Linked DNA regions of Homo sapiens: region 1 is linked to region 2. The links come from fine-mapping of genetic effects on gene expression. Tissue or cell type: whole blood. Region 2 holds a variant in brackets; the other region holds the start of a gene. All regions are shown on one strand. Distances are from middle to middle.

Region 1 (8,177 bases), 63 kb after region 2:
AAAGGGACAGGAAACACTCTGTCCTTTAGCACAGTGTTTGGCTCTGGCTATGCTGTCCAAGTATTTTTTCATTTGGGGGAAAAAAAAGGATTTTAATTCTTTCTTGAATTCTTCATCACTTGTGGCATAGCGCAGTTCTGAGCTTATATAAGAAAGTGAAAAAATAAGTCACAAAAATATACACATACTTGCAATTTTAAGTTACAACTTAATAATTCCAGATATTGAATGTTATCTGTGCTTTTAAAAAACCTTGCAGTATGTCACCCGGAGAAATCGTTGTGGTTTGGTTCAGCGAGTTCTATAACAATTTTTTCACTCCATCAATTGAGAAGCTACTGAACCGCTATTATTACCAAGAACCTGGGGCCTAAGGGTCCTTTCAAAGTTTCAGTAGCTCCATAATAGTTGCATTAACTTTAAGCACTAGGTGCAATGCATCAAAAAGAATAGATCCTAAGTTTTTTGTTGTTGTCTTTTTAAATTCTGAGTCTGCCAACATTGCAAAGTGACAATATCTACTAGTTTCTCACTGCCTGCCTCTATTTCTTCCCAGTGAGTCAATCTACCCACCCTGCAACCTGTGATTAAGAATATGCTGTTGGAGGCTGGTTGCAGTGGCTCACTCCTGTAATTCCAGCACTTTGGGAAGCCGATGTGGGAAGATCACTTGAGGCCAGGAGTTCAAGACCAGCCTGGCCAACATGGTGAAGCCCTGTCTCTACTAAAACTACAAAAATTAACCAGGTGTGCTGGCACGTGCCTGTAATCCCAGCTATGGAGAGGCTGAGGCATGAGAACCGCTTGAACCCAGGAGGTCGAGGATGCAGTGAGCTGAGATTGTGCCACTACACTCCAGCCTGGGTGACACAGTGAGACCCTGTCTCCAAAAAAAAAAAAAAGCTGTTTGTTAAGGAAGCTGGGAATTTCTCTTGGAAAAAGTCTTTATTCTGTAAGAAGCCACGTAGTAAATGTTTTAGGCTTGCAGGCCATACAGTAGCAAATATGCTGCTATTGTAGCCAGGGAGCTCATAGACCACAGGTAAATGAATGTGGTAGTTCTCTTTCAATAAAACTTTATTTGTGGGCTGGGTGTAGTACCTCACGCCTGTAATCCCAGCACTTTGGGAGGCCCAGGAAGAAGGATCACTTGAGGTCAGGAGTTTGAGACCAGCCTAACCAACATAGTGAAACCCCATCTCTACTGAAAACTACAAAAATTATCTGGGCGTGGTGGTGTTCACCTGTAATCCCAGCTACTCGGGAGGCTGAGACATCAGAATTGCTTGAACCTGGGAGGCAGAGGTTGCAGTGAACCAAAATTGGGCCACTGCGCTCCAGCCTGGGTGACGAAGCGAGACTCCATCTCAAAAAAAAAACACTTTATTTGTAGACACTGAAATAAATTTGAATTCCATAAATGAAACTTCATGTATTACAAAATGTTATTTTGATATTTTCTTGGTAACCATTTAAAAATATAAAACTATTCTTATTTCATAGGCTGTAAAATAAGTCTGTGAGACCAGTCTGGCCTCCCAGCCACTTCCCTGCTCTAAGTGAAACCCTGCTTCTTGCTTGCCCAAAGTGAAACATAATCCCAGTTTTGAAGCTAGCACACCAAACCAAGTTACTAAAATGGCACTGCTACTACAGTTTTAGAGCAGCTTTAGCCCAAAGGAGCCTTGCCTCTCCAAACTATACTAACAAAATAGCCATTTTTAACGAATAAACATTGCCCAAGATCTCTCTTTTAACCACAGAATCCTCCATCATAATTCCTTAATAAAATAACCAGAAGGAACACTTTTGCTAAGTATGGTTCAATCAAATCCACAACCCTACTTTTATGCAACTCCAAAAGGCCCAGATGTGGCTGGCTATGGAACTCACACACCCAACTGAACACTTAGAAGACCTTGTATAAAACTATTAATCTGAAGGAGGAAAAACAGTTACAGTTACTTCACAAGCAACGAAGTTATAAGGCAAACCCAGGATCCTGGAATATTAAGTGGAAAACAAATTATCAACTCCAGCCACAGTGCAGAAAGGACAGTTTCCTACTTTATCTCATGGTGGTTTCTACACACCTTTCTTCTGTTCCTTTTAATCTTTATTCATGCACGATTATTTTCATAATATGAATGTATTCATGTCAAAATAATGTCTGGATTCATTATTCTAAGGAAAAGAGTTGACCCATCCCCCAAATATTCAGAAAACACCATATTAAGTCTTCACCCTAAAGAAATTATCTGCTGAATTGTTAGTGAAGGGGTACACACACACACACACACACACACACACACACAGAATATAAATACGGTATCTGAAATAAACGTATCTGAAACCAGTATTAGTTTTCATTAGAACTTAACAGATTCAGCTTTTAAAAGGTACAGTCAGAAAGTATCCTCTGCTGGGAGATATTCTGAGGCTATGTCTACAGCTGCAATTCCGCCTCCATACACATCACAGTGTTGAAATAGTGTTTCAATTTTAAAATAAGTGCAATTCTTTTATGAGCACTAAAAACCTACCAAGTGGCTGCAGTAGGGGTAATCATGATAAGTGTTATAAATACCAATAGCTAAGAGACTCAACCATAATCCCCCATCAATGGAGATAAATCGCTTTTTCTCCTATCCAGGACCTTATTTCTATCAACTGCTTAAAAATGTTAAAAATGACATTTCTAATTCATTGTCTACCCCATTGTTCCATATGTGACATTCTGGTAACTGTACAGTCAACGGTACAGTACCTTTGAGTTGTCTCTATAAGAATGAACTAGTGTAAGCAAATAATCCATAGGAATAAATGTGGTTTTGCAATTTAAGTTTACATACATTCCTAACCATATCATACAAGTGATCAATGATACTGATATTGCACCTAACAAACTGCAATGGCTGGAGGCTTTCAAAAAAATTTACAGAAATTTAGGATTCCTTTAACAATAGAAAAAAGCCCAATATACATATTACTAAAGACTAAATGCTACTTTTCTAAATTGCTCTATCTCCTTCTTAGACAATTCTCTACCCTCATTAAAACACATGAAATCAACCTGGGTGTAAATTCTCTGAACACCTGGCATAATAAAAAAGTAATGTAGGAAAATGAGAAATATATGAAAATGATGAGACACAAGATGATATAGGGAATAATTAATACTCTATGGAAAAGCAAAATGTATTATAAATGCTAGCTATGACAAGCCAACACTCTGGCAGAGTTCAAAAGCCTCTTTTCAATGAATTTAACATTAACTGCAAACTATGTTAAGGTCATATACGAAATATCTCACTTAATTCTACAGTTAACCTGTACACGTTTAAGTGGCGCAAGACTGAGCTAATGAAAAGCCTACCTACCCGGTCACAGCGTAACGCTCACGATGCATAACTAAAACTCCCTCCCGTCCCGTTCTGTTTTAAAAACCCTTCCTGTAAAACTTGCATAATCTTCCTCCTCATCACACACAATCTTTCTAGCAGGCTGACTAAATCCAAGTTTAAAGGAGATCTCTGCTAGGTAGGAGGGGAAGGTTCCGTAGGATGGGAGCGACAACCTGTCAAACCCATTTTTTAAGTGCTTAGGGAGAAATGTCACCCCAATCAGCCTGGAGAGTTCAATGGCTTGCGATGTACAGTTACATTTCTTCACGACCCTTTGTACGTTCTGGGATTCAACGAGACAACAAGAGGGGCTGGCTTTTCGTTTTGTTTCTCGGGGTAATGGATCTGGCCGGGTCTCTTCAGTCTCAGGCCTCGGTGCCAGGCGGGCGCCCCCAGCCACGCTCTGGCCCCAAAGTTCCCCAGTCCCGCTGCCGGGCGTCCGCAGTCACCGCCCGGGACCCAGGAACAATGCGGGGCTCCGGGCCGCTCACGATCGGGCCCGGGAGGCCATGCCCCGCCTGCGCTGCGGAACAAAAGGCGCTCGCGGGGCCGCGGCCGGGTGCCCGGGGCTCGCGGAGTCGACGCCCGGCGGGGAAGGCGCGGGGAAAACTTTCCAAGGGGCCGAGGCGGAGGGGCGAGGGCCGGGCCGCCCCCTCGCGGAGCCGTCCCGCACAATAGCCGGGCCCAGCGCGGGAAGGCCGGGCCGCCACGCCCCCGCCCCGGCCCCGGCCCCAGCCCGTACCTGGTGGTTCTCCTTCCTGCCGCCCGCGGCCGCCGCCGGCCCACCCGGGCCGCTAGTCATGTTCACGTACAGGGAGCGGGTGAGCGGGCTCCGCAGCGTCCACATCCTCCGCGCCAGCCACACGGACGCCAGGCTCAGGCACAGCCAGCCCGCCAGCAGTCTCATCGGGGGCCGCGGCCGCTCGCTCGGATCACCGCCGGCGCCGGGGCGAGGAGGAGGAGGCACCGCCGCCTCCGGCCACCGCCGCCACCGCCCGAGCTCGAGCCATCGCGGCCGCCTTGCCCATCCAGCCCCCTTCAGGGCAAAGGCTGGGGGTGGGGAGGAGCAGCCGGCGCGCAGCCTCGGCACCTCCCCCTTCCCTTCCGGCCGCGGAACGCCGCTGCCCCCTGCACCAGTTTCCATCCGGAGCACTTACGAGCGGCCGCGTCGCTTTCTCCCCCGGCGCCCTCCCTCCGTCCAATGAGCGGGCCGCTGGGAGGCGGGACAAAGGGAGCGCGCATCCGCCCGGAGCGCGTTCTCGTGTCCCGGCCCTGCCTTGGCCTCTAGTAAATGGCGGAGGTGGTTTTAATTTTTTTGAGGGCTGAGGAGATCACTTCCGAAGGCGGTAACTGCAGCCTCCCTGCCCCTCCAAGGTGGTGCTGGAAGGACCTCCAGTCTTTCCTCGCCTCATCCCACTCCACGGCGGGACTTTGACAGGGTTACCTCTCGACCCTCATCCCACTCCACGGCGGGACTTTGACAGGGTCGTGCAGTTAACCCCGGGGGCGCAAAGAGGGGAGTCATTCCTTTCGTGCATCCTGACACACACAGGTTCTTCCCGGAGACGAATGGTGCCAGTGATGGTTGCCCGCTCGGATGCGTAGTTTCCAGTTTACATTTAGAACCGACCTGCCAGACTCCCTCCTCTACTCTCCCCACCACCACGACCCGCCTGCCCCGTTCCCCAAGCCTGAGAAGTTGCTGGCTACGTGTTTCTATAAAGAATGAGTGAAAATTCTGCCTTTTGGGGAAGCTACCGCAGCTGGGGTACCCACAAGTAATGTTTTAGATGTATTGATGGCCCTGCCCAAGAATGAAGACCTCAAGTTAGACTCCTTGGCTGCCTTGTTTCCTTGAATTAGCACAGGGAAGTTGGACCCAACACTCTTAAGAGTGAACTCAGCTCTGGGAGCAGTGTTTAACCCGGATATTTATTTGATCATTTATAACACGAGGAGACCTAGCAACATTTCAGAACTGAAGGGTTAGTTACACTGTGTTCCTGTCTGCAGTTCTTCCTGCTATTATCCAAGCCACAATTAAGGAGTAACATTTCGTGGGAGTCCCTAACTTTAATACTTTCCTAGGTTTGTTTGGAAAGTGCTTTTAATTTAACTGCACCAGAAATAATGTAAATGTGTCTAAGTTCAAAACAAAAGAAGTAAGCCTTTTGGTTAATTCAGCGTTGCACATCAGAGATTTTCATTTATGAAACAGTGGGGTGGTGAGCCACAGATGGGGAACAAAATCATTCCTTACCCAACAGCTTTTTTTTTTTTTTTTTTTTGAAACGGAGTGGAGTCTCGCTCTGTCTCCAGGCTGGAGTGCAGTGGCTCGATCTCGGCTCACTTCAAACTCCGCCTCCCGGGTTCAAGCAATTCTTCTGCCTCAGCCTCCCGAGCAGCTGGGACTACGGGTGCGCGCCACCATGCCCAGCTAATTTTTGTGTTTTTCGTAGAGACGGGATTTCACCATGTTGGCCAGGATGGTCTCCATCTCTTGACCTCGTGATCCGCCTGCCTCGGCCTCCCAAAGTGCTGGGATTACAGGCGTGAGCCACCGCACCTGGCCCAACAGCTCTTTCATTAGCTTTTAAGAATCTCAGCTTGGCACCTTTGGCTAACAAGGATATCTTGTTGCCTAATGTAACAGGCTGTAACAACAAACAAAAAGGCACAGGGTGGGTGGGGTTCGGTATTTTGTGTTCTCTCTTTCCAATATACTCCCTGACTGCTTCCTGCCAAAACCCCGAAAAGCCCAAGCCTTACTAAATCTAGTTCAAACCTCTAGTGGTCCTGGCCCAAGTCATCAAAAAGGAACTATGGTAGCAAGTCCAATAACTGTTTATTTACTATGACACCTCTCCTTCCTGTCTCTTAGGATCAGTGTAACAGACAAAGCAACTCTGTCACAAAAGGAAGCCTTCATCTTTTTAAAGTGGGGGTGAAAGCAGCAGGAGTGCATAAAATGGCATATTTCCTTTCTGAAGACAAAGGAGACAAAAAGGTATGCCCCAGCTATAGAGTGAGACCACATAGCTGTAGCTGAGAGACTGCAAAATGTTATCAGATGAACAAGCAAGTAGATGGCTGCTGTAGTCAGAAGGATTTTGGGGTCAGTTGACTGCCACGAAGCCTAACAGCTCAAAGGAGCAGATTTTGTTTTATATCTGAGCAGCTGGCCTAGAAAAATAAATCACTCATACATTTAAAATACTCTATAATAACCACCAAACACTCAAACCCATGCTATTTACATTTAGCAGGCACAGGAAGAAACCAGAGCATCCGATGATCAAATGATTTGCCTGAAGGTAGCAGAGTAAATTCAATAGCTGACCTTTTCATAGAACTTGGTATCCCAGCTCGTGGTCTTTCGATCCATCTAAGAAGCTTTGCTGTCTCTTCTCAGAGAGCCTCCTGAATTACAAATGAGGAGAAACGAAAACAGCAAGAGTAAATATACGAAGCAGAAGTTCAGATTGCCCACTGGGGACAGCCCCCTTCCTTCATCTACTAGAATGTCACTACCGTATATTAAAACCTCAATTCTCCATAATGGAGACGGGAAGGGGCAAGATGACACAAAAAGCCAAATAGCCAATACTCGTTCTAACATGATCTTGAGATGCAGTTAGTAATATTCAAAAGATACACAAATGACCCTCTGCACCGAACTCTGCTCATTGACCCCAGGTGTCCCACTTGGGTCACAGCCCTGTACACAGGCCCAAAATTTTGGCGGGATCACTTTCCTATCTAGATCTCTAGGCAAAGGCTTTTTGTTATTGTTGTTCTTTGAAGTTACAAAGCTTGGCATTTTCATATTCTCTTTTCAATTACAAAGTATCATGTTAAGAGAATCCACAAGCAGAGAGTTTGGATCTGTACAAAACCTATTGATGATTGTTATCTCCTTGAAGAGATAATGATTTAAAAAGAACTCATATAGACCAGGCAGGGTGGCTCATGCTTGTAATCCCAGCACTTTGGGAAGCCAAGGCAGGTGGATGGCTTGAGCCCAGGAGTTCAAGGCCAGCCTGGGCAACATGGAGAAACCCCGTGTCTACAAAAAATACAAAAATAAGACAGGCGTGGTGACATGCACCTGTAGACCCATCTACTCAGGAGGCTGAGGTGGGAGGATCACCTGAGCCTGGGAGGCTGAGGCTGCAGTGAACTGAGATTGTGCCACTGCACTCCAGCTTGGGTGACCCTGTATCAAAAAATAAAAATAAAAATAACTCATATAATCACTTTTTTTTTCCCGAGATGGAGTCTTGCTCTGTTGCCCAGGCTGGAGTGCAGTGGCACGATCTCGGCTTGCTGCAACCTCTGCCTCTCGGGTTCAAGCAATTCTCCTGCCTCAGCCTCCTGAGTAGCTGGGATTATAGGCACCTGCCACCACGCCTGGCTATTTTTTGTATTTTTAGTAGAGATGGGGTTTCACCATGTTGGCCAGGCTGGTCTCAAACTCCTGACCTCGTGATCCGCCTGCTGCAGCCTCCCAAAGTGCTAGGATTACAGGCGTGAGCCACTGCACCTGGCCATAATCATGTTTTTATGGACAGATATTTTTTATGCTTCTTAATATTGTTTTGTATACCTTCAGAGAAAGATACAGCTTTTTCCCAGTATATTCAATAGAATGTGTCCTGTAGTTATTAAGCAATGAGCACCTCTAACAAAATTAGCAAATGTACTCAACAATTTGTTTAATTAATTAACGTAGGAGATCTTTATCTGAATTTAGTTGATACAACTTCAATCCTG
Region 2 (8,177 bases):
GAAACTGCAGCCCATCAGGATCTGGTTTTCATTAAAGGCACTTTGGGTCACTTTTTTAGCAGATTGGTCAAAAGGACTGAAAGGACTGGGCAGGGCGATGATGATTTGGAGGTCGATAGCTTTCTCTATGGGCCATACCCCTTCCCCACTGAAAGATTCCCCCACTGCAGACTGGAGGAAATCAGTCAGGCAAGGATCCCTGTGGTGAAAACTACTCGAAAACAGCAACAATAACCACAAACCTGAAATGAAGACAATTTCCTGAGAAACTATGAATGTTTGGATGTGCAAGGTGATCAACTTTCCCAGTTGCCCGGGACCAAAAGGTTTCCCAGGACTCAAAACTTTCCATTTTGAAACCAGAAAGTCACAGGCAAACCCGGAGGAGTTGGTCAACCCATGGATCAGAGTCACTTCATCTTCTGTGAAATTTGCAAAGATGCTAGGAGGTTCCCCTCCTGCTGGGACACCCCAGCCCAGACACAAACCATTAATTCACAATTACATGGAGTTTCACTGTCTGCAAGGCTGCTCCATTTAAGCTCTGGGTCATGAACACATAACTCTAGGCATACTGACACTAGCTGGGAGATTTTCCACCAAAAAAAAAAAAAAAAAATGCCATTTCATGACTATTAATCCAAAATAGGTAAATGTGTCTGGCTTATAGAATACCAGCCTGATTACAAATGCTTGGTGTTGGAATGGCCCAGCTCACAGTGGTTGTAGAAGTCCAGTAGGCCCAGGCTTTGTGGCTCACTCCTGTAACCCCAGCACTTTGGGAGGCCAAGGTGGGAGGATCACTTGAGTCCAGAAGTTCAAAACCAGCCTGGGCAACATAGGGAGACTCCATTTCTACAAATAATTTAAAAATTAGCTGGGTGCATGCTTGTAGCCCTAGCTACTCAGGAGGTTGAGGCAGGAGAATTGCCTGAGCCTGGGAGGTCGAGGCCACAGTGAGCCGCGATCACATGTCACTACATTCCAGCCTGGGTGACAGAGCAAAACCCTGGCTGGAAAAAAAAAAAATTCAAGCAGTCAAGGGGATGGGAGCTTGGTGGACTAGAGATGCCCAGACTTGAGTTCCTGTCCCAGCCCTGCCACTAATAGTGAGATTTTAGGCACAGCTATTCCCCTTCTTCTCTCCTAAGTCTCCGGAGAACAAATGGCTTTGGATTCAATGAGGAAAAGAAGGAAAGAAAGGAAGAAACTGGTCTCACTGAGCATCCTCTATGAGCCGGGCATCACACCAAACCCTCCTCCCTGCCATTTACTCTTTCCACCAGCCTTGAAGGGTTACCGTACTCAGTTTCACAGATGAGTTCAGTGCACATGAACGATCACACAGCAAGCGAATGGCAGGGAGGGGGTTATGATGCAGGGCTGTGGGGCTCCCTAGTAACCTTAATCCCAGCAGTCATTTAATGAGACAGAACTAAGTACACGCCTCTCTAACATACATTGTCTCGCTTAATTCTTGTAGAATCTTTGAGGCAAGCATTACCATTATCTCTACTTCACAGATGAGCAAATGGGTTCTGAGAGGTCAAGTGACCTGCCCAAGGTCACACAGCTATGCATGCACAGCCAGGTGGCAAACCCAGAGCTAAATGATTCCAACGCTCACTGGCTTTGCTCTCCAGTGTCAGCTCAGCAGCCCTGAACCTAAAACTCCAGGTGGCAGGTGCCACCCCAGGGATAAGACCCCAGCTTTAACCTGAACCAAACCTTAACCAGCTGTGTGCTATTGGGCAAATTCCTTAACCTCTATAGGCTTGCATTTCCTCCTCTGCATAGTAGGCATGGCACTCATACCTCCCTGGCAAAAAACTATCAACTTTATTTGTTTATTTATTTATTTATTTATTTATTTATTTATTTATTCATTCATGAGACAGAGTCTCCCTGTGTCGCCCAGAATGGAGGGCAGTGGCCTGATCTCGGCTCACTGCAACCTCCACCTGCCGGATTGATGCGATTCTCCTGCCTCAGCCTCCGGAGTAGCTGAGATTACAGGCGCCCGCCACCACACCTGGCTAATATTTGTATTTTTAGTAGAGATGGAATTTCACCACTTTGGCCAGGCTGGTCTCGAACTCCTGGCCTCAAGTGATTCTCCTGCCTCAGCCTCCCAAAGTGCTGGGATTACAGGTGTGAGCCCCGGCCTTTACCTGCATTTTTCCATTTCTTCCACACAACTGTTATGAGGTAGGCATTACTTTATACATAAAATACATAAAGAACTAAGCCCAGCACTGGCACATATAAGAATGCAATGAATCGTAGCTATTATTACTAATGCTATTGTTTTTACTGCTGCTATATTATTATAACAAATAATCATTGTGATAGTTATTGCAACAGTTGTCATCGCTGTTATTATATTACTAAGTAGTTTTGGATCCCTTTTCTCGAAGTTTCATCGTCCCCCCCCTCCAAGTGCCCTCCAATCCCAGGAGCCCTTAAAGCCGCTGCACCCACACTTTGCCCACCCTCTTTCTCTCGGTCTGTCCCCCACGCCATCCATCACCTGCACCCCTTCCCTAGGGAGGCCCAGCGGTGGGCGCCCACCCGCTCCCCCAGCGCTTTGCCCCGTGAGTCCTCCGCCCAGGCCCCCGCGCGCGCCTCACCTGCGGAGCCCGGCTTGGCCGCACTGAGTCCCACGGGCGGGCGGGTGGCGCAGGGCGGGGCCGCGGGGCTCATGCGGGGAGCGGGCAGGCAGGAGAGCGGCGGGGCGGCGCCAGCCGGCAGCTCTGCGACCTCCTCCCTGCAGCGGCCCAGGTGGGAACTCAGCCAGGGCAGCGGCGGGGGTCACAGTCCCCGCCTGGGACTTCCTATCTGTCGAAGCTTGCAAGACGCACAAATGCCTGCTCCCCAGCCACTCTTCGGGGCGGCAGCTAGGAAGCGAGGATGGGGAGCACTAGAGAGCTATCCACCAATCGCTACATGGGACCTTTATTTAGATCTGAATTCAAACCGTTAAAAGAAGTTATAGGACGGGCACGGTGGCTCACGCCTGTAATCCCAGCACTTTTGGGAAGCCAAGGCGGGCGGATCACTTGAGGCCAGGAGTTCGAGACTAGCCTCGCCAACAGGGCGAAACCCCGGCTCTACTAAAAATACAAAGATTAGCCAGGCGCGGTGGCGGGCGCCTGTAATCCCAACTACTTGGGAGGCTGAGGCAGGAGAATCGCTTGAACCCGGGAGGGGGAGGTTGCAGTGAGCCGAGATCGTGCCATTGCACTCCAGCCTGGGCGACAGAGCAAGACTCCGTCTCAAAAAAAAAAAAAAAAAAAAAAAAATTATAAGAAAATTGGAGCAATGTGGTCGCTGGATATTTAATGGCTGGGTTTCTTTCATTTCTTTTTTCTTTTTTTTTGAGACAGTCTCGCTCTGTCGCCCAGGCTGGAGTGCAATGGCGCGATCTCGGCTCACTGGAACCTCCGCCCCCAGGTTCAAGCGATTCTCCCGCTTCAGCCTCCCAAGTAAAGAGGATTACAAGCGCCCATCACTACGCCCCGCTTATTTTTTTGTATTTTTAGCAGAGGCCGGGTTTCTCCATGTTGGCTAGGCTGGTCTCAAACTCCTGACCTCAGGTGATCCGCCGGCCTCGGCCTCCCAAAGTGCTGGGATTACAGGCGTGAGCCATCGCACCCTGCCGGGTTTCTTAATGAATAATTGTAATGTGGCTATCTTTTCAGAGTGGTTATCTTTTACAGTTATATATTTACAAAACTGAAATGAGACATCTGGGATTTGCTTGGCAATAGTGGAACCAAGGAGTAGTGGGAGTAGGGATGAAACAAGGTGGGCCATGTGTTGATAATTGCTGAGGCTGGTTGGGGAGGATTCATTATTACCTTTCTTTTTTATGTACTTGGAATTTTCCATAATAAAAATAATAGTATGACCTATAATAGATGTATACATACACAGAGTGGTAGAAAAAAATTCATCCTAAATGTCCACCAATAATGAAATGCTTAAATAAATGGATACATAAACGCTGTGGATTACACAGTCATTAAAATTGTTCTTAACAAAGACCACATAATTAGCACAAGGAAATAATTTTATATCCAAAACAAAAAAGCCAATGGTAAGAAATAGATGTATTTGAACTTTTATTGAACCTAGAAGCTAGGGGCTGGGTGTGGAGCCTCACACCTGTAATCCCAGCACTTTGGGAGGCCAAGGCAGGCTGATCACTTGAGGTCAAGAGTTTGAGACCAGCCTGGCCAACATGGTGAAACCTCGTCTCTACTAAAATTACAAAAATTAGCCAGGCATGGTC[G/A]TGGGCACCTGTAATCCCTGTTACTTGGGAGGCTGAGGCAGGAGAATTGCATGAGCTGGGGAGGTGGCAGTTGCAGTGATCTGAGATGGCACCACTGCCCTCCCACCTGGACAACAGAGCAAGACTCCATCTCAAAAACAAAGCAAAACAAAACAAAAAACTAGAAGGCAAGGCTGGGTGGGGTGGCTCAGACCTCTAATTCCAACACTTTGGGAGGCTGAGGTGGGTGGATCACTTGAGGTCAAGAGTTTGAGACCAGCCTGGCCAACAGGGCAAAACCCCATCTCTACTAAAAATACAAAAATGAGCTTGCATGGTGGCGCACGTCCTGTAATCCCAGCTACTCAGGAGGCTAAGGTAGGAGAATCCCTTGAACCCGAGAGGCAGAGGCTGCAGTGAGCTGAGATCATGCCACTGCACTCCAGCCTGGGCAAGAGAATGAGACTCTGCCTCAAAAAAAAAAATTAAAAAAAATCTGGTAGGCAATGCATTAAAATATTAGCTTTGCATGATAGGATTATGCATAACTGTTTTGCATCTTTCCTAATGAAAATAGTTGTGGACTCAAGAAGTTTCCTTGCAATCCTTCACATTTAACGAAACACATCTAATACCCGTAATATTTCAAAGTAATCATTGAAATGCCCAACGCTAACATTAGTTTGTCAGTGGCACAATTAAAACATTATCTTCAGAAATGACCAATTGCAGCATTCTGCTGCCCATCTGATAGTAATTTATATAATGCTAATGTCCAGCATCCTCAAAAACATCCTTTTATCCCCAGGGTCTTTGTTTAATCCTTTAAATAAAAAGCTTAACCTCAGCCGGGCACAGTGGCTCATGCTTGCAATCCCAGCACTTTGGGAGGCTGAGACGGGCAGATCACAAGGTTAGGAGATCGAGACCATCTGGCTAATACAGTGAAACCCCGTCTCTACTAAAAATACAAAAAATTAGCCAGGCGTGGTGACGGGCGCCTGTAGTCCCAGCTACTCAGAAGGCTGAGGCAGGAGAATGGTATGAACCCGGGAGGCAGAGCTTGCAGTGAGCCAAGATCATGCCACCACTCCAGCCTGGGTGACACAGTGAGACTCTTTCTCAAAAAAAAAAAAAAAAAAAAAAAAGCTTAACCTCAAGCTTTAAATGACAGGAAATGGCTTCCATCCTTTGTCAATTTTTGATTTAGAATATAGGTGTCTAGGAGTCTCACATGACTCATCTCAGAACAATAAAAGGACCTTTTCATTTTTACATATTTTAATGTTTAAACATTTATAAATGTGTGTATATATACATGCACAGAAAAAAAAAAGTCTGGAAGGCATAAACCAAACTGTCAGTAGTGGTTCTCTCAAGTTTATGGGGTAAGTAAAGTTAATTTTCATTTTATACTTTTTCTGCGATGAACGTTGATATGGTTTGGCTTTGTGTCCCCACCCAAATCTTGTGTGGAATTGTAATCCCAGTGTTGGGGGAGGGGTCTGGTGGGAGGTGATTGGATCATGGGGCTGACTTCCCCCTCAATACTGCTTTCGTGATAGTGAGTGAGTGCTCAGTTGTTTAAAAGTGTGTGGTACCTTCTCCTTGGTTCTCTCTTAGTTCTCCTTCCACCATGTAAGACATGCAGGCTTCCCCTTCACTTTCCACCATGATTGTAAGTTTCCTGAGGCCTCCCTAGAAGCAGAAGCCTATACAGCCTGCAGAACCATGAGCCAATTAAACCTCTTTTCTTTATAAATTACCCAGTCTTAAGTGTGTTTTTATAGCAGTGTGAGAAAGGACTAATACAAACGTGTTACTTATAATGGAAAAACCAGTAGGGCTTTACGATCAGTCATGGCCACCCTATAAATAATAAAAACAAGATGGAGGCTGGGCGAGGTGGCTCACACCTATAATCCCAGCACTTTGGGAGGCTGAGGCGGGTGGATGACCTGAGGTCAAGAGTCTGAGACCAGCCTGACCAACATGGCAAAACCCCATCTCTACTAAAAATAGAAAAATTAGCAGGGCATAGTGGCACATGCCTATAATCCCAGCTACTTGAGAGGTTGAGGCAGGAGAATCACTTGAACCTGGGAGGTGGAGGTTGCAGTGAGCCAAGATTGCACCACTGCACTCCAGCCTGGGCGACAGAGGAAGGCTCCAACTCAAAAAAAAAAAAAAAAAAAAAAAGAATTGCCAATGTATTCACTTGAACTCTAGCATTTGGAAAAGTGTTGAGAGTTCACAGTCGTTTAAAACCAGCGTTCTGTGTTGAATCCTAAACAGGATATAAGAAAATAGCATTTGGGCACTCTATCTGTTCTTATTTTCCAGAACTTAAGAAGTACAGGTATATAAGACATCCCAATTTACATGGGCATTTACTTGAGAGAAAAAATACTTACTTTTCATTTTACATGTATTGAAAGTAATTTTAAAGTGACTTTCTAACAAAAGCATATTATTTAATTCATGTGAATACAGCATACTGACCCAAATCCAGAGGGAATTCTTAAGTTCGGTTATGTAATAATATTCTCCCTGTTCTCCAAAAGTATACAATTTCACAGTGAAAAAGAAGTATTTTGTTATCACTGAATACTGAGTCCAATTCAGTGATACTGATATAGATAGCAAGCTACAAAGCACAATTTACTAGTAAATGAAGCCAAATGCCATACAAGTTGTATTATAAAAACAAATGATGCACTAGTCATTAGGGAAATGCAAATCAAAACCACAAGCTACCACCTTACACCGATTAGGATGGCTACTACTAAAAAAACAAAACAGGCTGGACATGGTGGCTCACACCTGTAATCCCAGCACTTTGGGAGGCCAAGGCAGGCAGATCACCTGAGGTCAGGAGTTCGAGACCAGCCTGGCCAACATGGCGAAACCCCAAAACCCCATCTCCACCAAAAATATAAAAATTAGCCAAGTGTAATGGTAGGTGCCTGTAATCCCAGCTACTCGGGAGGCTGAGGCAGGAGAATCACTTGAACCCAAGAGATGGAGTTTGCAGTGAGCCGAGATCATGCCCTGCGCTCCAGCCTGGGCAACAGAGCAAGACTCCATCCCAAAACAAAACAAGATAATGTTGGTGAAGATGTGGAGACATTGGAACGGTTGTGAACTGTTGGCAAAAATGTTAAATGGTGCAGAAAACAGCATTGTGGTTCCTCAAATAATTAAAAATAGAATTACCACATGATCCAGTAATTTCACTTCTGGTTATATACCCAAAGGAATTAAAAGCAGGGTCACAAGATACTTGTATACTCATGTTCACAGCAGGGTTATTCAGACAGCTAAAAGGTAGTAGCAATCCAAGAGTTCACCAACAGACTAATGGATAAGCAAACTATGGTCTATCCATACAATAGATTATTCAGCCTTAAAAAGGAAGGAAATTCTGGCCGGTGCGGTGGCTCACGCCTATAATCCCAGCACTTTGGGAAGCCGAGGCAGGTAGATCACCTGAGGTCAGGAGTTTTGAGACCAGCCTGGCCAACATGGTGTAACCGTCTCTACTAAAAATACAAAAATTAGCCAAGCATGGTGGCAGGCGCCTGTAATCTCAGCTACTCAGGAGGCTGAGGCAGGAGAATGGCTTGAACCCAGCAGCCAGAGGCTGCAGTGAGCCGAGATCACACCACTGAACTCCAGCCTGGGGGACAGAAAGAGACTCCGTCTCAAAAAAAAAAAAAAAAAAAAAAAAGAGAGGAAGGAAACTCTGACACCCTCTACATCGGTGAACCCTGAGGGCACTGTGCTAAGTGAAATAAGCCAGTCATGGGCCGGGCGCGGTGGCTCACGCCTGTAATCCTGGCACTTTAGGAGGCCGGATCACAAGGCCAGGAGTTCGAGACCAATCTGGCCAACATGGCGAAAC

The links. PIP is the estimated chance that this variant, and not a neighbour inherited with it, causes the effect.
Region 1: it holds the start of METTL9, and the variant in region 2 is fine-mapped to the expression of METTL9 in whole blood (INTERVAL, PIP above 0.99).

Annotation. Positions count from the first base shown.
Region 1 is chr16:21,595,868-21,604,044 of GRCh38, reverse strand. It overlaps METTL9 (methyltransferase 9, His-X-His N1(pi)-histidine), which reads right to left and starts at 4,468. Exons shown (of 5, transcript NM_016025.5): 1 at 4,147-4,468. The coding sequence starts at 4,311. LOC101927814 (a long non-coding RNA gene) reads left to right here and starts at 4,660. Exons shown (of 3, transcript NR_110930.1): 1 at 4,660-5,389; 2 at 6,286-6,411. RefSeq lists an enhancer at 3,189-3,753 and a silencer at 3,862-4,481.
Region 2 is chr16:21,658,686-21,666,862 of GRCh38, reverse strand. It overlaps OTOA (otoancorin), which reads right to left and starts at 2,895. Exons shown (of 29, transcript NM_144672.4): 1 at 2,631-2,895. The variant G/A (reference allele first, on the strand shown) is at 4,295.